Homo sapiens: one gene and its partners. The protein of the gene in region 1 interacts with the protein of each later gene in a pairwise test. Each region holds a gene or a part of one and is shown on either strand. Other genes may lie near its edges. The genes, in order: FAM124B, SH2B2, KCTD6 and GPRASP2.

What was found.
Region 2: the proteins of FAM124B (region 1) and SH2B2 interact in binary tests that used the Homo sapiens proteins (3 or more experiments, as listed by UniProt).
Region 3: the proteins of FAM124B (region 1) and KCTD6 interact in binary tests that used the Homo sapiens proteins (3 or more experiments, as listed by UniProt).
Region 4: the proteins of FAM124B (region 1) and GPRASP2 interact in binary tests that used the Homo sapiens proteins (3 or more experiments, as listed by UniProt).

Annotation. Positions count from the first base shown.
Region 1 is NC_000002.12:224,399,080-224,406,120, reverse strand, and holds the start of FAM124B (protein FAM124B), read left to right. Parts: upstream 1-4,013; 5' UTR 4,014-4,352; coding exon 4,353-5,084; intron 5,085-5,615; coding exon of another isoform or gene 5,616-5,702; exon of another isoform or gene 5,703-5,744; intron 5,745-7,041.
Region 2 is NC_000007.14:102,317,856-102,322,231, forward strand, and holds the end of SH2B2 (SH2B adapter protein 2), read left to right. Parts: intron 1-2,475; coding exon 2,476-2,647; intron 2,648-3,443; coding exon 3,444-3,775; 3' UTR 3,776-3,856; downstream 3,857-4,376. UniProt on the Homo sapiens protein: Adapter protein for several members of the tyrosine kinase receptor family. Involved in multiple signaling pathways. May be involved in coupling from immunoreceptor to Ras signaling. Acts as a negative regulator of cytokine signaling in collaboration with CBL.
Region 3 is NC_000003.12:58,487,845-58,495,112, reverse strand, and holds the start of KCTD6 (BTB/POZ domain-containing protein KCTD6), read right to left. Parts: upstream 3,018-7,268; 5' UTR 2,944-3,017; exon of another isoform or gene 705-2,943; intron 1-704. UniProt on the Homo sapiens protein: Probable substrate-specific adapter of a BCR (BTB-CUL3-RBX1) E3 ubiquitin-protein ligase complex mediating the ubiquitination and subsequent proteasomal degradation of target proteins.
Region 4 is NC_000023.11:102,708,498-102,715,476, forward strand, and holds the start of GPRASP2 (G-protein coupled receptor-associated sorting protein 2), read left to right. Parts: upstream 1-3,950; 5' UTR 3,951-4,055; intron 4,056-4,342; exon of another isoform or gene 4,343-4,509; intron 4,510-4,593; exon of another isoform or gene 4,594-4,632; 5' UTR 4,633-4,720; intron 4,721-5,284; 5' UTR 5,285-5,352; intron 5,353-5,691; 5' UTR 5,692-5,769; intron 5,770-5,911; exon of another isoform or gene 5,912-6,039; 5' UTR 6,040-6,372; coding exon 6,373-6,979. Other genes in the region: ARMCX5-GPRASP2 (G-protein coupled receptor-associated sorting protein 2), read left to right, coding at 6,373-6,979. UniProt on the Homo sapiens protein: May play a role in regulation of a variety of G-protein coupled receptors.

The DNA of each region.
Region 1 (7,041 bases):
CCATGTTCTGAAGTCCTCATAACACACTCCACTCTCCATTTTGCCCTGGGTGCCACTTAAACATTGCTTGTCTCTTAAACTGGGTACTCCTGGAATCCTATCCTCTTCCTTCTTCTGTCCTTGTTGTGTCTTCTCTTTCTGGGTAGTCACATCCTTTCCCATGGCTGCCTGAAGACCAGCAGTTCCCCAATTCCTATTCTCTGGTTTACTGTTCCCTTCAAAGCTGTAGTGAACAGGCCACTGGACATCTCAACTCTGGCCATCCCACGGGCATCCATGCACAACACAACCACCCTGCCCTCCTCATCCTCACTCCTAACTGCCCTCCTTTCCAGTATTCCTTATCTGGTGACTGACAGCTTCACCCAAACATCTGCAAGTACCACCCTGGAATGCCTCCTGGACTAGCCACCACGGTTTTCTGCCTGCATCCAACCAGCCAACAAACCTGTCCTTTGACTGCATATCTTGCTGTGTCCGTGGCTTCCTCAAAGCATCACTTCCCTTTTCATACTGACTTTTAGGTGGTTCTGGTCAGATTCAAATAAAGTGTTCTGCAAGGCCCTTCCTGATCAGGCCCCTGGCTTCCTTCCACCCTCCTCTTCATTGAACCTCCACTCCAGCCACCTTGAACTGCTTGCAGTTGCACCAGTGTGTGACAGTCCTGGCCCCCTCGTCTAACTCAGTGTCTCCCCATGGGGTCTCCATACATCCTGCAGCACCCTTTATCATGGCACTGACTGCATCATTTAGGGTGCCCCTCCAAAGTGGGGGATGGTGACGATTCTATCTTCTGCTCCTGGTGCAACGCCTGGCTCTTGACATGTGAGATAAACATATTTTATAAATTAAAGATGGAAAGGAACTTTTTCTCAGAGTTTTCCTGGGTTGGGGGTGGGTGGGAATCTCGAGGTTATAATGCATCCCATTGTATTTTGTAGAAAGGACAAATCCCCGAGGATTTTCATGGGTTCCAATGGAGCCTCGGATTTTCTAGGTTTGCTTGAGCGACTCATCACCAGCCTCTCCATTTGCTGTGAGGAGTGGACCAACCATCTGCCATCCAGGAGCTGATGACTGCAGAAACCTGGGCATCATTGCCTGCCAAGTTTAAGAAAAATAAGATAGAGAATTGGAGTGACAGCTGTCCGGGTGCTGAGAGTCAAAGCTGATGATTTCCCTTAGTATTTTTGTCTGTGCCTTCAACAGAAGCACCATGCTAAAACACTGTTGTGCTGCACAGCTGAGAATCTGGCATTTGTTGTGGGTGGAAGGCAGTGACCAAAGGTGGAGGCAGTTTGGGGAAGGTCAGTCAGTATTTCACGTTGTTCCTGGGGAAATAATCACAGAGACAGCCAGTCAGAAATGAGGCTGGTCCCCCTCTTCCCTGGCCTCCTGCCCCTTGGATTTGTTGGCACTTTGGCTGCCAACAGATTAATGAAATCTTTTCAATCCTGAAAGAAATGACAACCTCATCAGGAAAAAAGTGTATTTTCAGCATTAGATGGAAGATAATATCAAGAAACAAAATCTTTTCCTATGTAAGAGCTTTAATACTTACCTTGTGCAAAATGTTGTGAGTTAATATCGTGGTTTCAGGGGAACAATTTTTCTCCTCAAATCTTTAGAGTTATTTCCAGAATTTCAAAGCCTATTTCAAAAACTATAGTTTTGTCTAAAGTACAATCAGCTCTGTGAATGGAAGGGTTGCGGAAGGGAGAGTGTTCACACTGAGAGATGAGATAGTTATCTGCTTCCAATGCCAATGCATAACATGAATGCTGTCGAGTTTTTTTTAAAAAAGCTTGAGATTTGTAATGCCAAAAAAAAAAACCTCTAATGATTTTTTTAAAAGTTGAAACAAGATGAATTTAATTACTGAGCTGCTCACAATAACTAGGAAACAATTCCTCTGTTATAAATTGTATTTATGTATTTTTCCCATGCAAAAAGTACAGGAATTATGAAACACAAATGATTAGAATTGTACGTTAGATTTACATAGTGAATCTGAATAGAAATAACTCCTTTTCTTGGATAATAATATTTTACTTTAAATTAGGTTGTTATACTATTAAAGGAATCCAGATATATAAAGTTGTTATATTTTTCATCACAAAAGTATTTTTTAATGTAAAAAATTGTCACACTGTGTTTCATTATAAGGATTCATAAATTTGCCTCTTTTATTTTAATTTTTTACAGCTCTTTTTGAAGTACATTTTTTTTCTTTGAGACAGGGTCTTGCTCTGTTGTCCAGGCTGGAGTGCAGTGGCATGAATTTAGGTCAGCACAGCCTGGAACTCCTGGGCTCAAGCGATTGTCCTGCTTTGGCCTCCCAAAGTGTTGAAATTACAGTTGTGAGCCACTTCGCCTGGTCCAATTGCCTCTTTTAAAAAGAATTGTGTTTAGAAAAAGTGCTTGTTCATACCTGTTGAGGAGCACAGCTATCAGGAGAGCAAATGATTTTTTAAAAATATTTATTTATTTATTTATTTTTATTATTTTTTATTTTCTGAGACGGAGTCTTGCTCTATCACCCAGGCTGGAGTGCAGTAGTGCGATCTGCAACCTCCACTTGCTGGATTCAAGTGATTCTTGTGCCTCAGCCTCCTGAGTAGCTGGGATTACAGGCATGCTCCACTTTGCCCGGCTAATTTTTGTGTTTTTAGTACAGACGGGGTTTTGCCATGTTGCCTAGGCTGGTCTCGAACTCCTGACCTCAGGTGATCCACCCGCCTCGGCCTCCCAAAGTACTAGGATCAAGGCGTGACGACTATGCGTGGCCACAAATAATTTTTAAATCAATATTTAGAACACATTTAGGGTGAGTGTTTAGAGCTTGACAACTTTCTCATTGAAGATTATTCCGTTTAAGATTCAACAGCTCAAGAGTCTGCAAATCTAGATCCTTAACCAGAACTTGCTTTTATATCTTTTCCTTACAAGAAGAATACCCAGGCTGGGACTTCAAGGCCCCAGAGAGGCAGTGCAGCAAGTTCCTGGGTTCAAATCATCCTTCAGCTACTTCTTAGCTGTGAGACCTTGGGCAAGTTACCTAGCCTTTCTATGCCCCAGTTTCTTCATCTGTAATTTGGGGCTAGTAATCTCTTCTTCATAGGTTTGTTGCAAGATTAAATTAATTTACATTAAGGGCCAGGTGTGGTGACTCATGCCTGTAATCCCAGCACTTTGGGAGGCCAATGCGGGCAGATCACCTGAGGTCAGGAGTTCGAGACCAGTCTGGCCAACATGGCAAAACCCAGTCTCTACTAAAAATACAAAAAAATTAGCTGGGCGTGTTGGCGCACTTATAATCCCAGGTACTGGGGAGGCTGAGGCAGGGGAATCTCTTGAACCTGGGAGGTGGAAGTTGCAGTGAGCCAAGATCACGCCACTGCACTCCAGCCTGGGCGACAGAGCAAGACTCCATCTCCAAAACAAAACAAAACTAATTACTTTAAGAATTAGAACAGTTTATGACTGGTACATAGTAGATCCTCATTAGACACTAAAAATTATAATTACAATTGTTAATTATAATTATTTATTATTATAATTATATGAGCAATTATAGGAAAGCTCTCACTCTTTCTAAAGAATTTGCGTGAATAAAGGAAGACTAATTTTCTCAATGTCTTTTTAGTACACTCAGAATTTTCGGTACAGCAAATAATTTTCAGTGAAGTCAAAATTATTTAGATAAAGTCTTCTCTTCGTGCCCTAGCAGAAAATGTTCAGAAACAAAATGAAATAAAGAGACAAAGGAAAAAAAAAACTGGCAAAGGGTCAGGTTTTGAGAATTGTTTTCAAGAAGTCATTGTATTCAGATTGGTGGAGCAGGCTACTGTAAACCGTAAGTAGGAAATGAGAACCCGTTGTAAGTTGATAAAATGGATGTCTTTTCAACTAAACAGATTGCTATCAGCCTAACAGAGCCAACTCATGTTCCTTTTCGGCCGGTCATTTCCTGTACTAAGTGTCTATAAGAGCCGCCCATTTGGGTGTTTCTCAGGATTATAGGTTTTTAGGTCACGCAGAAACCCTGGGGAACGCCTGAAAAGGCTAAACACAAGCAGTTACATTATGCACAAGCTGGATGACGTGACCCCGCTGCTGCTGTGTGGAGAGGGAGGCTGCTGAACCCGAGCTGGTGTGAGCTTCTCTTGCCGTAAGTCCACGGGTGGCCAGGAGCACGTGTTAGTCTGGTTAAGAGCTCTGCTCAGAAGTAGCCGCTGCAGCTGAAGGTTTTCAGGCGGGCTGAAGGCTGGGCCGCTTCTTCATTCATTTCAGAAACTTGAACAGTGGGCCTTCTACACACGCTGTCTTTGTCAGCCTCAGGCAGTTCCTCCATGGATGAGACACAGGGGCCTCTGGCCATGACTGTCCATCTTCTTGCCAACTCTGGGCACGGCTCCCTTCTGCAGAGGACTCTGGACCAGCTCCTGGATTGCATTTGCCCAGAGGTCCGGCTCTTTCAGGTGTCTGAACGGGCCAGTCCTGTGAAATACTGTGAAAAGTCCCATTCCAAGCGGTCCCGGTTTCCAGGGATGTCCGTGTTGCTCTTCCTGCACGAAAGCCCGGGAGAGGATAGGCTATTTCGCGTCCTGGACTCTCTCCAGCATTCGCCATGGCAGTGCTACCCCACCCAGGACACTCGGGGAAGGCTGTGTCCCTACTTTTTTGCCAATCAGGAGTTCTACAGCCTGGACAGTCAGCTGCCCATCTGGGGGGTGAGGCAGGTGCACTGTGGCTCCGAGATCCTGAGGGTGACGCTGTACTGCAGTTTTGATAACTATGAAGACGCCATCAGACTCTACGAGATGATCCTGCAGAGAGAAGCGACCTTGCAAAAGAGCAATTTTTGTTTCTTCGTGCTCTATGCCTCCAAGAGCTTTGCTCTGCAGCTCTCCCTGAAGCAGCTGCCCCCGGGAATGTCAGTGGACCCCAAAGAGTCTTCGGTGCTGCAGTTTAAGGTTCAAGAGATCGGCCAGTTAGTGCCTCTGCTACCCAATCCATGCATGCCTATCAGCAGCACCAGGTGGCAGACTCAGGACTACGATGGCAACAAGATTCTGCTTCAGGTATTTCTGTTTTGTCTCAGATCTTGTAGAGGCTCATGGAGCTGTGTAATTTTACATCGGAATGGGCCTAAGCTAGTGGTTCTCAGACTTGGTTGCATATTAGCGTCCCTTAGGGTCTTTCATAAATTCCCACCCCAGGGCAGTTTGATCCGAATCTCTGGGAACATCCAGGCCTAGGTAACTTTTTTACAGCTTCTTGGATGACTGTAATCTGTAACAGGGTTGAGAATCACTGATCTCATAAAATCTCATCTGACAGATAAGAAAGTTCAGATTCCATGAATTTGCAGCTGACACAAGTACTTTATAGTAGAATCAGACAGGATTCTACTATAAAGATCAGAATCCTATTAAAGAATCGGCCTCCTTTCTCAGGCTTGCCGTTTAAATGCCCATCAACTATACCCCTATCCTTTGTTTACTCTTTGGGCTCAGGAATGTCACAAGCTCTTCTAATCTGACTTAAGGAAGTTGAAGTCATACTTATGTTTAGATATGGTTTTTTTAATTTTTAATTTTTTTATTTTTTAGAGATGGGAGTCTTCCTCTGTTGCCCAGACTCGAGTGCGGTGGTGCCATCATAGCTCCCTGAGGTCTTCACCTTCTGGGTTCAAGTGATCCTCCTGCCTTAGCCTCCTGATTAGCTGGGACTACAGGCACGTGCCGCCATGTCTGGCTATTTTATTTTATTTCTAGAGACGGGGTCTCACTATGTTGGCCGAGCTTGTTTAGGGATGTTAAGTTTGCAGTACTATTGACTTAATTTTTATTCTTTATTATTATACTTTAAGTTCTGGGGTACATGTGCACAAAGTGCAGGTTTGTTACACAGGTATACATGTGCCATATTGGTTTGTTGCACCCATCAACTCGTATTGACTTAATTTTTAAGCATCTTGCATCACTGTCAAATTTTACCACATACCAAGTTAGATAGAATGCTTTCTTAAAAAAACTTGAAATTAAAGCCTTCCTTTGTAACCATCCTCGAAAACCTAACATAGCATGTGTGTATTTAGTCATGATAGCTGCCGTGCATTGCCTTTCCATGGTATGTGAGCCTGGGCACTTAGTAGCTGTATGACTGTGGGCCTCAGTTTCTTCATTAGCACAATAAAGGCACCCGAGAATTAGCATCTTCCTCTCTCATACTTACTTACAGGAAATGACCTGACACTTATAAAGTACATAATTAAGATAGTGCCAAGAACTCAATTTTAGCTATTATTGTTCATATTATGCCCTATACTAAGGATTCTCTTAAATTGATAATTTTATTTAATACTTATAACAACCTATGAAGTTACTATTTTTCCCATTTTGGAGATAAGAAAACTGAGCTTTCCAGGGGGTCAGTTATTTGCCCAAGATAGGAAGTATCTATCTACCCTCAAAGTTCATGTGGTCAGCCGCTGCAGTCCAGTGTATGTGTGTAAATGTGCAAGCAGGGGGATGAATGTCATGTTCACAGCAAAATATCCTGTGGCTTCTGTCCTTAAGAAATGGTCAGAAGCTCCTTAAGGCCTATTGAATAAAGTAATAAGAGACTACAAGATGAGATGTCTTTCCATTTGGTTAATTTTGTTGTCATCACTTTGACTTGTTAATAAAACATGAATCATATTCCATATTAAATGATTTCTAAATTATTCACCTTCTTGCTCACATAAGGTAGACAGGCACTGTTTCTGTTAGTTGCCTATTATAAAACCCCATAATTTCCAAGGCATCTAAAATTTCTTTCAGTTTTAGCGACTCTCTAGTACTTAAAATCAACCTCATGGTCAAACAAAAATGTAATGTGTGTGTGCAGCAAGGGACATGATTTTAATCATTCCTGTCTTTAAGGCTGACTGACATTTTTGCTATGGAACCACAGTTTAAACAACTTAGTTACTTTGGAAAGTTGAGTCACATTTGGGGAGTGTAGAAGAGTTTTTTGGATAAAGAGAAACTC
Region 2 (4,376 bases), on another chromosome or scaffold:
GTCACCAACCCCTGAGGAACACACACGGGCAAACCCTAGAGACCCAGCAGGGGAGGAGGAGCTGGGCTGGGTGGGAGAGCTGTGCAGGGTCTAGGGGGTGGGGTTCAGCATTGGAGGGGACAGCCTGATCAGAGACCTGCAGGGGAGGGAGAATTGTGGAGGGGAAGACAGTCAGGAAGGCGATCCCAACAGCACCCAGCTGGATCAGAGGCATGATGGTACACCCAGGCGGTGTGCTTTCAAGGAAGAGGATTCCTTGCTATATTGACCTGAAATGCTTTGTTTTTGTTTTTGTTTTTTTTTGAGACAGTCTCGCTCTATCCTCCAGGCTGGATTGCAACATCGCAATCTCAGCTCATTGCAACCTCCGCCTCCCGGGTTCAAGCGATTCTTGTGCCTCAGCCTCCCAAGTAGCTGGGATTACAGACACGTACCACCACACCTGGCTAATTTTTGTATTTTTAGTAGAGACAGGGTTTCACCATGTTGGCCAGGCTGGTCTCAAACTCCTGACCTCAGGTGATCCACCCACCTCAGCCTCCCAAAGTGCTGGGATTACAGGCGTGAGCCCCCACGCCCGGCCTATTGACCTGAAATTCAAAGGAAAATTTGACAGCAAAGGCAAATGATTATGGGGGGGTGCAATGTGGCCAGAGGGGGCAGGAACCTCAGTGCCCACCCCCGCATCCCAGGTTTCCGATAAGGAAACACTCAGCCTGGGCTCCTGCCAGGACGGATTTCCTGGCGGCCCCTACTAGAGGAGGGAGAACCTTAGGACTCCTGCTCCAGGCCTGCAGCTGGGGGACAGTGTCTCTCTGCAGGGACCCCGGCTGCCCTAACCCCTAGTGGCTCAGTGCAGAACCTCTGGTGGCTTCTCTCCTCCTCCAGGTTGGCCCCACCATGCAGGAGGTAGCACCTCCACCAGGGACATTTCCTTGGCAAGCAGCCACCCTTACAGTTCCTCCGACAACCAGGTGCTTAAGGCCATCCCTGGTGACGTGCAATTTACTTCTCAGCCAGTGCTGCTCCAGGCAGCCTCCCAGAGGGCCTGGATCTGACTCATGCCCAAGCCAGAGGCTAGGATGGGGGAACAAAGGGTGGGTGGCAAGCTCCTCTCCTTCCTGGAACAAGACCCAGCCTTGAACCTGCCTCTCACCTCTCTACCCAGCTGCTCTTCTCCCAGAGTGGAGATGACTGCCCCAGGCCTGATAAGTAAATGGTGGGACAAAGCAGGAACCCCAGCCTCCAGCTTACATACCTCCTGGGAGGGAAGATCACTACCTTCCCAGAGGCAACTCTTTCCACCTTCACAGAATAAATGTCTGGAAGGTCTGGCAGAAGATTGGGATGCGTCCAACTTGCTTCTTCTCTCCCCAGGGACCCAGCTGTGCCCTGCGCAGGCTCTGCCCAGCTATGAGGCTGTGGTGGGACCCCTCTGTGCTGTTTCTTTCGGGCTGAGTCCCTGCATTGTCCTAGCAACTTATTCTGCTAAGTGGCAGAGCTCACTTGTGGGACCGCCACCCCGCTCCAGGGATTGTCTGTATTTTTTTGTTTGTTTTTTAAAGGGTTGGGGGGTATCTCACCATGTTGGCCAGGCTGGTCTTGAACTCCTGACCTCCCGTGATCCATTCCCCTCAGTCTCCCAAAGTGCTGGGATTACAGGCGTGAGCCACCACACCTAGCAGATTGTCTGTCTTTTATGCAGGTGGCCAGACCAGCTCCCCCTCCTGGGCTTGGGGCTATGCGTGTACCCTCAAACCACTCCTCTTAGCTCCCCTCTTGCCCCACACACCCCAGAGATAGCCACTTGTTTCTGCAGTGGGATACATGTTGAGCAAAATAGGGCTTAAGTCAGAGACCTGCAGCTCTCCACTAGACACCACAGGCCTATGGTTTCTTACCCTGAGGCACCTGCCTCACACAGGCCCTAGAGACCTAGAGAGAAGCCAGCCCTGTTCCAGCTGTTCCCACAGCGTGCGGTCACTCCTCCCCAGCCAGCCCTGGGGAGCTTTCCATGCCTCCGGGTTTTGGCTCTGCAGGGACAGAGGGCCAACCTCTAGCCTCCTGGGCTGGGGGAACCACCCAAACAGGAGTTTTCTTCCCTGCTCTGTGCTCTGTGACCATGGGCCAGTCACTCCCCCTCCCTGGGCCTTGGTTTTCCTATCTCTAACATGGGGGCAGTAATCCCTATCTTCTGGCATTAGGGAGGGGATTAGAGATTATAGGTGTGTAGGGCATGGGCCCATAGTGGAGGTGCTCCCAGCATGGGGACAATGCCTGATGCCTTCCATCTCAGCCTGGGTCCGTTGCCCCCATTCCCCATCTCCAGATGGGGCTCATGTGTGAGGGGCCCCCGGCCCTGACACAGCCCCATACAGCCCCTGTGAGCCTTGGTCCTTCCATCAACCCCCAAAGGCGCTTACCCAGGTGCCCAGCCCCGGACCTGCCCCTGACCACACCCACCTGTACCCACAGCACCTGCGCCTGTCCCTGAACGGCCACGGCCAGTGTCACGTACAGCATCTGTGGTTCCAGTCTGTGCTTGACATGCTCCGCCACTTCCACACACACCCCATCCCACTGGAGTCAGGGGGCTCGGCCGACATCACCCTTCGCAGCTATGTGCGGGCCCAGGACCCCCCACCAGGTAAGATGCCGCCACCTGGCTGGTGTGATTACTCAAGAAGACTTCCCGTTGATTACTCAAGAAGGTGGTCCCTGGGGTGGGATGAGCCCCAGGTCTCCTGTCCCATAGCCTCAGCCGTGTCCCTCCCACCCTAGCCTAGCCACAGCAATTTCAAGCAGTCACGTCATAAGGAATGGAGGCAGAAGTGGCAGCCTAGAGGCAGCCAGGTCCCTAATGATTCCTGGCAAGGGGAAGGGGGCGCCCAACAGCAGTGCAGGTGGGTGTATGGGGGTGGGGACAGGGGTGTGGATTGGGGCAAGTGGGATGAAAGGAGCTGGGCATATGGATTCTTAAGCCCTGCACTGGGGAGGCTCAGAGCAAAGCTGCTGGGACCGAGCACTAAGGGCATGGGTGCATGTGCATGCGTGTGCTTGTGTGTGTGCATGAGTGTATGTGTGCATGTGCCCGTGTGCGTACGCTTACGTGTGCGTGTGTGCGCATATGCATGAGCGTGTGCATGCGTGCATGGGCACGCGTGTGCTTGTGTGCCTGTGTGCGAGCGTGTGCATTATGTATGCGTGTGTGTGCACTCCTGTGCATGTGGCTATATGGGCGTGCACACGCGTGGTTAGGTACATGTATGTGTGTGTGCTTCTGTTTATGCATGTGGGCGGGTGTGCTTGCATATGTGTCCGAGGACATGGGCTGCAACTCGGAAACCTGAGCGTGGGCCCTGGCCCCTTGAGGGATCCCGGCCTCCCTGCAGGATGTGGCCAGCCCAGGTCCCCACTCACGCCCTGCCGTCGCCTTGTTGCAGAGCCGGGCCCCACGCCCCCTGCCGCGCCCGCGTCCCCGGCCTGCTGGAGCGACTCGCCCGGCCAGCACTACTTCTCCAGCCTCGCCGCGGCCGCCTGCCCGCCTGCCTCGCCCTCCGACGCCGCCGGCGCCTCCTCGTCTTCCGCCTCGTCGTCCTCTGCCGCGTCGGGGCCCGCCCCCCCGCGCCCCGTCGAGGGCCAGCTCAGCGCGCGGAGCCGCAGCAACAGCGCCGAGCGCCTGCTGGAGGCCGTGGCCGCCACCGCCGCCGAGGAGCCCCCGGAGGCCGCGCCCGGCCGCGCGCGCGCCGTGGAGAACCAGTACTCCTTCTACTAGCCCGCGGCGCCGCCCGGGTGGGACACGCCAAGCTCTTCAGTGAAGACACGATGTTATTAAAAGCCTGTTTTAGGGACTGCACCCGGCTCTCCTGTCGTCCTTTCTCCCACGGGGAAGGCGGGGACTGCGGGGCAGCCACTCTCAGAGACACCCGTCCATCAGGGACCCCCGTCCAGCCCAGTGTGGCCTGACACCTGCCAGGCCCCCTTGCAGCTCTGTCTCTGGTGGGACAGCTGAGGGACTCCCCATGGGGCGTCGGGCAGCACCTGAAAGAGGGCCCAACAGCAAGGGTTAGGGCTTAGGATCGGGAGGGGGCTTTACTGGAGCTGTGAGGGAGAGAGATGGGAGGTGGTAACAATGAGGGGTGCTGAAAAGAGAGGAGGGGGCATTCAGGACACAGTGAGGGATGGGGAGCACGCCCAAGTCATACGGAGAGCTTGGATGCCAGGAGGAGGAGTCGAGGCCCGGACTGGGAGGGTAAAGGCGTTTTTAGACAGATCTATGAAGCCTGGCGGTGTGGACAGGGCGGCAGGGCAGGAAGAAGCCTGGCGGTGTGGACAGGGCGGCAGGGCAGGAAGAAGCCTGGCGGTGTGGACAGGGC
Region 3 (7,268 bases), on another chromosome or scaffold:
TTTCCTTACTAAAACTAAAGATGGTTTTGAAAGACAGCAAATGCAACCGAGCACAAACAGCTATAAAATTCAAAGAAGCCTCTGACCCTGAAAAATCAGTTCACCTGAAAAGATGTAACCTTTGATGCAAATAAAATTCTTGTGAAAACAACACTGCCCACTCCCCAAAGAATATAAAGCAGTGCTGAAAATTCAACCATGTTTAAGCTTCAAAGGTTATTGTGACTAATGTATAAATTCTGACAGTGTCATGTTAGCAGGTAATTAAGCTTAAGAAAACACATACTGAAGAATTTATAGAAACCTTAAAAGGAAGTATTAATTTTCTAAAGTAGCATATCTGAAGAAATGCATACATAATTCAGTAAGTTAATAACTTAAAAAAATAACCTAAGAACCCTTAAATGCCATTCTCCCTATCACTGCAGAATTGCAATTACAGGCCTAATGGTTATGATGAACTAACTTAACAAAAATATTCTGGGTTTATCATTCCTGCTATAGATTAAGAATTCTCCGGGGCAAAAGTCCTAATCCTATATAACTACCTATATGTTGCAATAAAAACCTCCAACGAATAATAAAAAACTCCAACTACTGACTTCCCAGAGTTTCCAGGCAGCCCTTTAAAAATGCTTTTTTACTGAAACCTTCGTGTCTGGTAGTCAGAAAAGACTCAATAAACTCCCTCTTTCTATACTTACCTTCAAAATTGCCTTGTATTGAGTTTTGCTCTTCTTGAAATGTGGGAGTTTGAAAGCGAAATACTTTTTATAGTAACTAGTTCAGCGACATCTAAAGGAGTCTTTGGGGTTAACATTCACATACAGGCCAGCATAAGTAGCCAGGCATACAAGGATAATGTGATTATGGTTAGATTATCCTTAACCATACCACTGCAGAAATGGATTTTTCTCTACAAGTAATCATTTTCTCTTTCTCCTTTCTCAACCATGTGGTCTAGAAGAGAGAAGCTATAGGTTTAAAAGTGACCTAATATTAAAAAGCTGTCACAAATAGTCACAAAATCATAACATTCCTCTTAACCCTCAGTTTCCGCAAGATAAAACGGGATAATACCACCTTCCCAAAACGGGGTAATTACACCATTTAGGCACAACACAAAGGCAAAAATTGGCCTATAAGAGTAACACATCAGGACAAGGAAAGAGAACAGGTTCCCAGGGAGGTCCTGTAGTTGAATTCTGCTCCGTTACTGATTATGAGACCCTGAGAAAATCACTCTTTATGCCCAGCTTCTTCTTTGGGGAAATGGAGAAAATAAGGGAGATCATGAATATAAAACCATCTGTAAACTAGCAAGTATTAGACAAATGTGAAAACATTAGTGGCAGCAGCATAAACAAAATTTCTAGGTTAACATGAGAAACTTGAGTGTGAACACAAGTAATTTAGAGCATTGGCCTGGAGACGGCAAATATGGAGGAGGCAGCCTCTTAATTTGCTTCAAATCTCCCCAGGTCCTCCTTTTCCCAGAGCTCCAGAAGGGAGAACTATATACAGGTAAAGGGGAGTGTCTAGTTTTCCCAGAGTTCACCAAACACCTGAGCTCCTGATCTCAGAAGGAACTTCTTTAAAGCATGACTCGGGATTATCTCCAAGTTAAAGCTGAATCCAAATACATACAGGTACTCCATTTTAAATGGACCCCAAATATCAAAATCCAAGCGCACTGAAGGATTCATAGGGTTCACCCTAAGATTCCTTTAAGTAGTAATGCTTTGGTTAAAATATGATTTATGAAAATTCAAATCACAAAACTTTGGAATGGCATCCATGGCTATCCTGACCACTCCATCGTTCATATCTAAGGCATAGCACAAAATCAAGTATCAGTATGGACTGATGGTTTCGGCCAAAGAGAAAATACTCTCAACCTACCAACCCTGCTGACAAACACATTTTCCTTTTCCTAGCTACATATTCGTTCATTTGAAAACATCTCAATCTTGGGCTCAGGACTGTGCTACATGCTGTCCCCAAGCTTCTCTCCTATCCCAGGATGATTCAAGTAATAGGGCATTTGTGACAGCGAAAAAAAGAACATGCCAGGGGGATATAGAAGAGATACTTAGGCTACCCCAAATATTCTTAGCCGAGCCGGGTCATCCCAGGTCACTTTGCCACCCAAACCTCTTCTATCACAAAGTCCTAAAATTGGATCCATCAACTTGTTCTAGAACTGGTATACTTGAACAGAAACATGGTAACTTCGGCAGAATATCCAAACAGGATCTCTGTCACGTTTCATTTCCCCGTCCCACCCCCAGACACAGCCTCCACCACTGTCAGCCCAGCAGGTGCTGCCAGGGCTCCCCATTACCATGGCCATTTATCACCTCTGACATCAAGCATTAAAAACGCCACCACACACACACAAATCTAGGCATAAAGAACTCAGCTGCGATCTGAGAGTCTCTTCAGGGCAGAAAATCCCAAAGGCAGGGTTTTGAGTCCTGCCTCAAGCTTTAAACTAGGGCAATTGGTGGCTAATAAGCGCCATCTCCCAAAAACAATCATTTTCGAGCACACCCCAAATATCTCCGTCCGGGCCGCCCTTCGCTGCTGCCCCGCCAGCGAAGCCCCCGCAACCCGACCCGGCCAGGGGTAGGGCGGGCGATGCTCCGGGCCCGGACGAGGGGCGCGCCGCGGGGCTCCGAACCCGGGCCCGCAGAAACCGCGCATCCCCGCCGGGCGGGCCCCGGAACCCCCGCCCAGGCCCCGCCGCGGGCACCTCCGCTGCTGGCTCGTGCCAGCCCGGGACGCGCGGTCCCCTCAACGCGGCCCCGCCGCCGCCCCGTTCCAGGAGCCCCCGCCCAGATCCTCCTCAGCCCCGCTCCCCTGGCCGCTCGGCGCAGACGTCTCCTGAAACCCGGCCCTCCCAAACCCCGGCCCCGCAAGCCCCGCGCCAGCCCCACTCACTGCGCGGCGGCGGCGGCTGCTGCGGCCGGGCCGGGAGATGCCCGCGGCCGGAGAGCGCGAGCGCGGGGACAAGCGAGCCCGCGCCCGGCGACGGCGGCGGCGGCGGCGGCAGAGGGGACGACTGAGCCCGCGCCCGGAGTTGCGGCTCCAGCTGCCCGGCGCGGGCGGCGCCTTCCCAGCAGAGCCGCGGCGCCACGAGCGCGGGCGCCCCCTAACGGCAGCGCGGGCTGGAAGCCAGAGAGCGGGCGGCCTGAGGAACTCAGCCAGCGCAGTCGGAGCCGCGCGGTCAAGACCACACGACCGCAGCCCCGAAGCCCCGCCCCGAAGCCCCAGTCCCGCCCCTTAGGCTCCGCTCCGAAGCCCCGAAACCCCGCCCCTACGTCCCGCCTCCGCCCGCAGCCTGGGGTCCGCCCAACCCCAGGCCCACTGCGTCCTCAGGGGTGGTGCCTCCACAGCTGTTTCTCCTTAGTCATTTCACGAACTTGTATGGGCCCCCCACTATATCTCAGGCCTGGGGGTTTAGGAGATACAGCGGCCACCAAGACGGAGGCGGGTCCTAATCAAAGGAGAAGACAGACAAGACTCAAGGAAACAGCTAATAGACAAAATAATGACAAGTTATGGCCGTAAGTGTTGGGAGGGACATGATTAGAGGACTTAGATGGAGAAGAAGGGAAGGGAGCCCCTGCTCCAAACGCAGTGGCCGAGGAAGACCTGGACCCCGACCTGCGGCCAGAGCTCCTCCTGCCTGCCCTGCATTGGGGAGACAACCCTGCGATGAGGCCTGTGAAGAAGCCCCCGGGGCCACCGGGGCAAGACGGTCTGGTCCGGCCTGACGGGCAAGACAGCAAAGGGCTGCTGGGCCCAGAAGCTCAGCAACACGGGCAGCCAGGTGGAGAGAAGGGCAGAGCTACCTTCAGCAGACAAAACGACCCATGCAAAGGCTCTGGGGCCTGGAGGAGCTCGACCCTAGATGAGACTGGCGCTGGTATTGTCCCCACTTCACCAGGAAGGAAGCCAAGGCTGCAGAGGATGGGCAGCACCTAACGCCTCAGGGCTAATTGGTCTCCATCCGTCCACTCGTTCCAAGTCCATTCACTTCCTGCTAGCCAGGCCACTGTCCCCTTCCGGTGGGACCAGTTACCTGATGCTGGGTTTAACCTTCTCCACCAGAATAACCACTGGCCTTAGAAACTCACTTGGGTTTCACGTCTGCATGTGTGTGAGCTAGCTCTGGGGTTGAAATTGTATCAGCATGATCATCACAGTTATATCTGATACTTGATTTGTCTCCAAAAGCTCAAATTGATAGGTTAAATAAATGACATATGCTTCATCAACATAACTGAGTGCTACATTATCAAATTCACAAAGACTAGGTGAGAATACAGGGAAATGTGTGTGAAAATGATCAATACACAAACTAGTACACATGATATCCTGATTTTATTTTTAAAAACATAAATATATACAGACAAAAATTTTGAAGGAAATACATCAAACCATTGACCATCGTGTTCAAGATAACAGTATGGGAATGTTAATGGCATTACTTCATAACGTTCTTCTGAATTTTCATGAATATTGAATTTATAATCAGAACACATAAATATTGAATTTATAATCAGAAAAATACAATGAGTTTTGGTTTGGTTTTTCTTTTTTTTTTTTTTTGCCCCCCACTCCTCCCCACCCCACTGGGTTTTGTTGTTTTTTAATAGAAGGACAATACCAAAATTACCCAATACTCAGATCTCCAGAATTTGGTGCCACTGAAAACCCAGAATTGCCTCTGATTTACTGGGTATCCTTGAAAGAGTCATTTCCCCTCTCAGGGCTTCTATTTCCCCATATAAAAACTGATGGATTAATTTTGTTGGTGATTTTGTCAGACCTAGTCCCTCCTATCTTAAAATTTTTATAACTAGTGCTAATTGTACTTTCACTTTTGTATTTTATAATTGATAGATGGCTATTGAAATGCAGTTGGGTTTTATATAATCTTATATTCAGCAAAAGTGAACTCTTTCAGTTCTAATAAGTTTGTAGGTTCTCTTGAATTCGCTGTGCAAATAATCATAGAGTCTGCAAGTCATAACAGTGTGGTATCTTCCTGTCCTTTTTTTCCTTTTTCTTGCTGTACTGTGCTGACTAAATTCTCTCACACAATGTTGAAGAGCAGTGATGGTAATGGGCATTTTTATCCTGTTCTTGACTGCTTGTAACATATCACCATTAACTATAGTGTTTGTTGTGGATTTTTTGATAGATATTCTTTATCAGGGTAAGGAAGCACTATTCTTCTTTACTATGAATGGGTGCTGAATTTTATCAATGTGAGATTCCCCCCATTGCAATGTAATGAATTACAACCATGGATCTTACTATATTAAACCATCCATGTATTCCCGGGATAAACTCGCCTTGATAATGTATTTTTTTAAGTCAATGCATTTTTATTCAAGGAATTTCACACGTCATGATGTATTATTTTTTCAGTATACCGCTAGATTCCATTTGCTGATATTTCATTTAGGGTTCCATTTGCTAATATTTCATTTAGGGTTTTTGTATCCACGTGGATGACTGAGATATGCTACTATTTGCTTATTCTCTCCTCGTCTGGCTTTGCTATCAAAGTTACATGAGCCTCATAACATACCTTAAGGAATGAGTGTCTATTCACTAGACTGGGATTTTCTGTAGTTTGAATGTTCTATAGGATTCTCCCGCAAACCATCTGGATCTGTTGGTTTGGGGGGTTGGGGGTGGAAAGGGTTTATATTGGAAGCTGTTTGCCTCCACAGAGCTCAGGGTTGCAAGCCTGCTGGGGAAGGCTGGCTTCTGGTTTACAGCTGCCCCTGACCCTCTGCACCTTTCTTTTCCAGGTGGCCACCAAGTATCCAGGCTCCTGTGGTAAAGATACTGATCCTGGTCTGCCCTGGGGCCAGGCTGACCTGGAGGGGGCTGTTTATTATTGCAGCTACACCTGTTACAGGAAGGAACCAAGCCCAGCACGGTGCTGGGAGGGCAAAGGGGCACCAGCAGTTGACAAGACAATGAAGTGTGGAGATCTGAGTCCCCTCCCTCTCTCCCTTCTCCCAACTCTCACTGCCTAGCCGACCTCACCTCCTACTTGTCAGGAAAACCTTTCCCCTTCAGTGGGAGCCCCCTAGAACCCTCCTCTGCCCTCTTTTGGAATGACCTGCATTGCACTGTCCTCCCCTCATGAGATGGCTGGGGGATTCCACCTCCTGTCCAGGTGATCCCCTCCCTGGGCTCTAGTCCATTCCTTCTCCCACCCTTTAGCCTCTCCAGGCTCAGATCTTCCATCCCTCCCTCTCTCCAGTCCCCATCTCCCACGCCCATCAGCAGATAAACAGCCTCAGGTCTCTGTCCCTGACTCAAGAATTTTCAGACTTCTCCTTCGACACAGTGTCCCCCTCCCTCTCTTCCTTTGCTGTGTCCCCCCACTTCCCCTAAGACCCCAACCCGTAACATTCAATCTGGCCTCAGGGCCCACCTCTCCATCTAAATGGCTCACCAGAATCCTCCTTGATACTAAATCTGAAAGAACCTCCTCCGACCTGCATGGCTCAGGCCTCTCCGCAGCAAGGCTTCTGCAGTGACGTCTGCCAGGGGACAGCCCCTTCCCTTGGCTTCTAGGATGCATGTTCTCCTCCTTCTTCCATAGCTCCTCCTCTTAGACTTACAAAGATGCTCCTCTTGCTTTACCCCGACACTTAAGCTCAAGTTCCTGTTCAACACAATCCCCTCCTCTCCATGTACCCCTCTCCATGGAATGGTTCAGCCACCTCCATGGATTCCTTTACTGTGTCTGAGCCAAAGGCTTCCAAATCCCTGTCTCCAGCCCAGCCCTCTATCCTGAATCCAGAGCTATAGATCTTGTCTGTTCTATAGCCCCAATTCTGTACAAGGTACTGTGCTAGGTGCTTTTACCCACTGTATCAGTTACCTTTTGCCACATAACAAATAATCCCAAAAGGTAGGGACTTAAAACGGCTTCCAAGTGCTTTCCCCTCTGTTTCTGTGGCTCAGGAACTTGGAAGCAGCTCAGGGTCCCGCAGGAGCTTGCAGTCTAATTGGCGGCAGGAGCTGCACTCATCTGAAGCCTGGAGACTTCCCTTCCAAACTCACTCATGTGGCGTTCAGCATAAGGCATTCATTCCTTGTCATGAGAGTCTCTCCTGACAACATGGTAGCTGACGTCCCCCAGAGCAAGTGACCCAAGAGAGAGCAAGATAGAAGCCACAATGTCTTTTATAACCCAGCCTCAAAAGCGACACACATATGATTATGGTCCC
Region 4 (6,979 bases), on another chromosome or scaffold:
AAAGACCTTACCCCTTTCACAGATACTAACCTAAGTTTAAAAGGCAAAACTATGAAACTTCTAGAAGATAACATAATAGAACATCTAGGTAACTTTGGGTTTGTCAACAACTTTTTAGATACAACAAAAGCATGATCCATGAAAGAACAAATTGATAAGTTGGGTCTCATTAAAGATTATTCTCCTCTACAAAATAAACTGTTAAGAGATTGAAAAAGAGAAGCCACAGAGAAACTATTTGCAAAACAGACATCTGATAAAAGATTGCTATCCAAAATATACATAAGAATTCTTAAACTTAACAATAAGAAAACAATCAACCCATTTTAAAATTGGGTAAATGATGGGAACAGACACTTGGCCAAAAAACATATTCAGATGGCAAATGAGCATATGAATACATACTAAATATCACATGTCTGGGGAATTGCAAATGAAAATGACAGTAGAAAGTCCAAAGTTAAGCTAAAAGGGTTAAAACAGGTCCTTGTCCACAGTGAGTAAGAGGGACAAAAGGAAGTAATGCAAGCTGCTGCACAGGCAAGGGATATACGAGTGTGCAAGTTCACAAGCGTGCATGTGGGAGATGGGGTGGGGTTGGGGACAGAGAGGTGGGTATCATGAGTCAGTACAGCTGCCTCTTTGTCCTGGGCTTAATGCTTGTGAGTTATTTGTTTTGGAAATTTAGATTTTAGGAGCCAGTCAGGGTTACACAGGTGCTGGTGGAGGCACTGAGGAGTAAAACCATGGCTGATGCAATCTATTAGACTGGAACACATTTTAAGAGGAAATAAATAGCTTGTACCAGTCAGACAGGCATAGGTCAGCATCTTCTTTTAACTTTTTATTTACTCTCCACTTTAAAAATGACAAACTATCCGAGCTGGTTTCCTCATCTGGTATAAGGAGGTAGTTATAATACATTCTGGTAATAGTCTATAATGTCTTTACACACAAAGAGGTTAGAACAGGGCCTTTCTCAGTTCAGTAAATGTCTATCATAGTCCCTGTTTTCTAAACGAATTGACATCAAATTGCCCAACACGTTTCAAATTCTCACAGTAAAATTGATCAGCTTTTGGTAGAACCACCCCTCTATAGGTAAATATCTTGAGAGCAAGATCCCAGCGCCTCCAGAATTACCACAGTAACTTGTGCTGGCATAGTTTTCGATACATCTGCAAACTTTCAGAATAGGGAATTGAACAGGAAACCACAGGTGAATGTAAGCACCACAAGAAAGGGGATTCATTTCTCTTTGGTTTATACTGTATGCCCACTGCCTAGGAGAAAGTAGGAGCTCAATATATATTTGTTGAATAAATGAAAGGCATCAGTAACGTTATGAAAGGGGAAGAACAGCTCAGGAAGGCAAAGAGATGTACACGCGCCAACAAATTCCAGCAGACCCAGGCTCTGTTCTCCCAAGCCTGTAATTCATTCATGAGAGTATGCTGTGGAACAGAGAAAATCCACCATTCAGTTAAGGCCATGAAAAAGGCAGAGTTAACGTGGTCTTCCTCTAATACATAACATTCATCTCCAGATGTGGTACAGAATCATCCTCACATGTTTTCTTCATATCAGCAAAATATTGTACAGTTATAGTAAATATCTGGTAACAAAAGCTGTATGGAAATATATGAAAATTCATCATAAGAATAGGGCTCCTGGCCAGGCACGGTGGCTCACGCCTGTAATCCCAGCACTTTGGGAGGCCGAGGCAGGCAGATCACCTGAAGTCAGGAGTTCCAGACAAGCCTGACCAACATAAAGAAACCCCATCTCTACTAAAAATACAAAAAATAAGCCAGGCGTCTTGGGGCATACCTGTAATCCCAGCTACTCAGGAGGCTGAGGCAGGAGAATCACTTGAACCCAGGAGGCGGAGGTTGCAGTGAGCCAAGATGGCACCATTGCACTCCAGCCAGCCTGGGCAACAACACCGATAGTCCCTCTCAAAACCAGCAACAACAACAACAAAAGAATAGGGTTCCCTTTTGTACCTGGGAAATATCAGTGGTTTCAGCAAAAAGGAACTTTCTCCAAGATTACCTATAAGGGACATAAAAAAAATCACTGTCCTTTAGGAAGCAAAGAAGAGGCAATTGATGTTTGTAGTGGTGAGGCATGAGCTCCAAAATAGATCTTCCCCAGAGACTGATCCACGGGTAAAGAAAGTCAAGGGGAATAGACTTCATCAGGATGGTGAGTGTATTAGGTTCATACTGCTGCTTTAACCAATTACCACACATAGAAGGGCTTAAAATAATACAAATTTATTATTATCTTACAGTCCTAGAGGCTGGAAATCTGCAAAGGGTTTCATTACACTAAAATCAAGATGTTGCCAGAGGAGCTATCCCTCTGGCATTTCTAGGGAAGAATCTGTTTCTTTGTCTTTTCCAGGTTCTGGAGACAGCCTGTATTTCTTGGATCTTGGCTTCCTTCCATCTTCAAAGCCAACAATGGCCAGTGTAGACCTTCTCATGATGCTTCAATCTGATATTGAGTCACTGCCTCCCTCTTCCACATTTAAAGTACCCTTGCAATTACATTGGCCAAGATAATCCAGCATAATCTTAAATTAAATTCAGCTGATTAGCAATCTTAATGATCCTTTGCCAGGAAATATAAAATGGTACATGTTCTGGAGAACAGGACATGGACATCTTTAGGGGACCGTTACTTGCCAAACACAATAAGGGTAGCACCTAAATGAGTTTTCAAATGGACAGCAGTAACAACAACATCAACTTCGTATTTAACCACATTGCTCTGTCTGTCCCATGCAGGAAGCAGGGAAAGGAGGGGCTCAAGAGTAGAGGACGGATGTTGGGGTGAAAGAAGAGGATTCAAAAGGAGCCAGGTTGCTTTGTCTCGGGGAGGGGGGTGCACGGTGGGATCCTCTCCTGAGAATGACTGCTGAAACAGCAGGTAGTTGTGGCAGGTGGCTGAGATCCAAGCTGGTTCGAATACCAGCCACATTTCCACACTGCCAAATGTCATGGCAAGAGAAGACTTGACAGGGAACCGAAGAGGAGCCAGGACCATCCCTACCTGGCGGCATCAAAGAGAGAGGACTGTTATGACCTCCTGCGGGTCCTGACAGGGAAAGGTCCTCTTCTGGGGGCAACTGTGGCGACGGCGCAATGCCAACGTGAGCCACCATTTGAAATGAGAAAGAGCAGTGTGGCAGAAAGGAATGAGTTTGGTGCAGACCAGTGGTTGGTTTCCTAGGGTTAGAGGTCTAGGTCTACCTTCTTTTAGAAGAGGGGCAGTGGTGAGTCCTTGATGGGAGCCCCCTGCCCCGGAGTTCACTTAAGAGCAGGTGTACCTTCCTCCCCTGCGTGGCTCCACGAAGCTGGGAAAGAAACGCACAAGAGGACCACCCTAGAGCCCCGGGCCTGTATGGCCTGAAATCGCCTCTCCCCTCCCACACTGCAGTGCTGACACCCCCTTTCCCATCAGCTTCCAGAAAGGAGGGTTAGGGGACTGGGGAGAGGGAGGGGGCAGACACCCAGCAGTCCCTGTGAGGGGGGCGGTTGGGGCGGGGGTGCAGACACATCACGGGGCGGTTTGGTATCCATCCGCTGTTCTCTCCAGCGCGGCTCTTCCCGACCTCGCGATCCTGTCCCCTGCCCGGGCCCCCAGCCGCCCGCTGGTCCCATATATTACAGCAGCGACAGAAATATGGTAGTGGTCGCCACGTTAGGGTCCGTGGGGGCCTCCTGAGGCAGCCTGGTGCCAACCCGCACGCCCAGGCTGGGGCTCATCCTGGCCCTGCCCACCTCGGGGTCGGAACTACGGTGGGCCTGGGATGGGGGCGTCAAGCACTTTCGCGCCGTATCCCTCCGCCCCCCTTCCCGACACCCTCGCGGCGAGCGGTTCTTGCCGCATCCTGCGCAGCCCCTGCCTACTTTGGTGCAGAGGCGTGGGGGGCGGGACGCGTCTTTCCCGTTCGGATCGCGGGGAAAGCAGTGGCTCCAAGTGAGCCAGAGGAGAGCTGAGGAGAGGAGGGGGAGGCCGACGACCTGGGCCCTGGGCCTCTGAAGGCAAGTGCGGGTGCATGAGGTGGGGGTCCGGGTTGCGGGGGTGGTCTGGCAGGGTGGACCAGCAGGCAGCCTGCCCCGCGGACCCTGACAGCCTGGCAACGAGGAGACGATCCGGTCGGAGCCAGGCGCTTGAGAGAGGTGCGCAGTGCCCGAGACCCCTGGCGATGGGGAGGCGGTGACCGGAGCGGGCCTGGCCAAGGGCTGAGGGGCTGGCTCGGGAGGCACCGCCAGATCGTTTGGAGGAGAACCGCGCTGACCGCTTCCCAGCCAGCTTTGCAGGCGCCCGCGCCCCGCCCTCGACGGTGTCTGTGCCCGGAGAGGGCTGTGGGGGAGGCTCCTGCGGGAGAAATGGCGGAGCGGGAGCCGCTGTGGGGGCGCCCGGGAAGGCCGTTGGGGGGCGCCCGGCGAGGCCGGCGGGGGTCGGCGTCCCGGCTCTGTACCCAGTCCGCCGGAGGTGAGCCGCGTTTGCTACTCCGGGTCCCGATTCCCGAAAGGGGCCTGTGGGGCCCCATGTCCTCGGTGCCTTCCCTTCCCACAGGCTCCAGGTTGATGTCAAAGTCTTGTGTCTGTGCGGTAGGTCTGGCGTATTCTGACAGGACACAGTGAGCGTCTGTAGAGGAGAGGCTTGAAATAAAGGAGCACGAATATTGCCTGGATTTCTGGAGGTGTGTGGGGATGGGGGTTGGGCGCTAAACACTGATTGGGGACCCGAATCGGGGTAGGGGACTGTGACCAGAGCAAGTCAGGCATCCAGGAGCACCTCCTAATCTTCACCTCTCTAATGGCGCTCCCCCCACCTTCCATCCCCACCTGTCTCCCCCACCGTCCTAAACTGGGGGCATGAAAGGGTGGGCTTTGGAGGTGGGGGTGATGAGGGAGACATACTGACAAGTACTAATTCACAACCTGTTTTCTAGAATATGCGGCGCCCTTCCCCCATTTTATGCTGCGCAGAGCAAGGGGATGTGGCGCACCTAGTGGTGAATCCTCAGAATTGGAGAAGGGAGTAATGGGAAGAATATGACGTCAAGAGAAGGAGTTGTTATCTCTGGAACCTTGAAGCAGGGCCCAAATAAAACGAGAATATTCCACCAGCAAAACCCCGAATGTTGAAAGACAGATACCAATAATATGGGGACTCTTATCCTTGGCGTTGGCCTGTCTACCAAGTGCTCTTCTGCCACCACTCATATCCTGACTGTCTTACTTTTTCATGTGTTTGTCCATAGGCCTACTTTAAGGCTGGCCAATTCTGCAAGAAAGGCAAGGAGGAGGAGACTGGCTCACAGCTCTGGAGGTTAGTGAGAAGGGGGAGAGGACAATGCAGGGGACAGTTGGAGAGAGCATGGCAGGTGGCAGATCCACTTCCACCTGTAGTAGAAGTGGCAGACCCACTTCTATTCTGCCGGATTTGCACAGTGCCAGCATCCTTTTTATTTCTTGCAGGAGACACGAGATAGGTGTAGGTTGGGTTGTGACTCAGAAAAGACCTGAGAGCAGGGACTAGGACACAGGAAACCATAGATACATTGAACTCTTGAATGGGAAGACAGATATTTGTCACAGGGGCCAGAGTGCCCACCTACCTACCAAGCACTCACACTCCATTCTCTCCTGTATGTTCACTTGTCTGTAGGACCCCCTTCTGTCAGCTGTGGGGCTTGACACCACTTGAACAAGAAAAGGAGGGGGAAACTGCACCACATCAGTGAAGGTTGGTATGAGAGCGGGTATACTTTTGGGCGGGGTAGTGGAGACCAGCATGGGTCCGGGAGTGATTAGGGTCCAATCTGGGGGCTTCTTGGCCCCTCCCATTGCCGACACACTTTCCCACCATTGTTGGACCTGTTTTGTAGGAGGCAGCCGGTCCAGAGAGACTTTCTCAAAGCCCAGCTGTCCCACCTAGCATTCAACATCAGTCGCACTGCATACGTCTCATACAATTGGAAGAGACTCAAAGCCTCATTTCATTCTCTCTCCCTAGATCCACCTCCAGTGGCTGCTCTGCTGGTGGTGGAGTTGCTGCTGACAACCACCCTCAACGGGTCTGCACCCATCCAGGAAATATCTGTCTTCCTTTAGCTTGGTTGTACCTGTTCTCACTCTATCTGTATTATTGAATTATTGACTGAGACTGTGTTTGGGAAGGAGGCTGAGTGACTACTGGACTGGATATTGACTCTAACTCTTATTCCCAAGCTTATATCCTTAATCACCTAAAGATCAGAGTGTGAAGAAACAAACCTGTGACAGATCTGTGGTTGAGGTTTAGACTACGGGAGGAGTATATTACCTGACTTTCTTTGTAACTTGTACCATGACTGGGGCAGAGATTGAGCCTAGTGCCCAGGCCAAGCCTGAAAAGAAGGCTGGGGAAGAGGTTATCGCTGGGCCTGAGAGAGAGAATGATGTCCCTCTGGTGGTCAGACCCAAGGTTAGGACCCAGGCAACTACTGGGGCAAGGCCCAAAACTGAGACCAAGTCTGTGCCTGCGGCAAGGCCCAAAACTGAGGCCCAAGCAATGTCTGGGGCAAGGCCCAAAACTGAGGTCCAAGTAATGGGTGGTGCAAGACCCAAAACGGAGGCTCAAGGAATCACAGGGGCCAGGCCCAAAACCGATGCCAGGGCAGTAGGTGGCGCTCGTTCTAAAACTGATGCCAAGGCAATCCCTGGAGCAAGGCCCAAGGATGAGGCCCAGGCATGGGCCCAGAGTGAATTTGGGACTGAAGCAGTGTCACAGGCAGAAGGAGTGTCCCAGACTAATGCCGTTGCTTGGCCACTGGCCACTGCTGAGTCTGGATCAGTTACTAAATCTAAGGGCCTGTCTATGGATAGAGAACTAGTCAATGTGGATGCTGAAACCTTTCCTGGCACCCAGGGTCAGAAAGGAATCCAGCCCTGGTTTGGACCAGGGGAGGAGACTA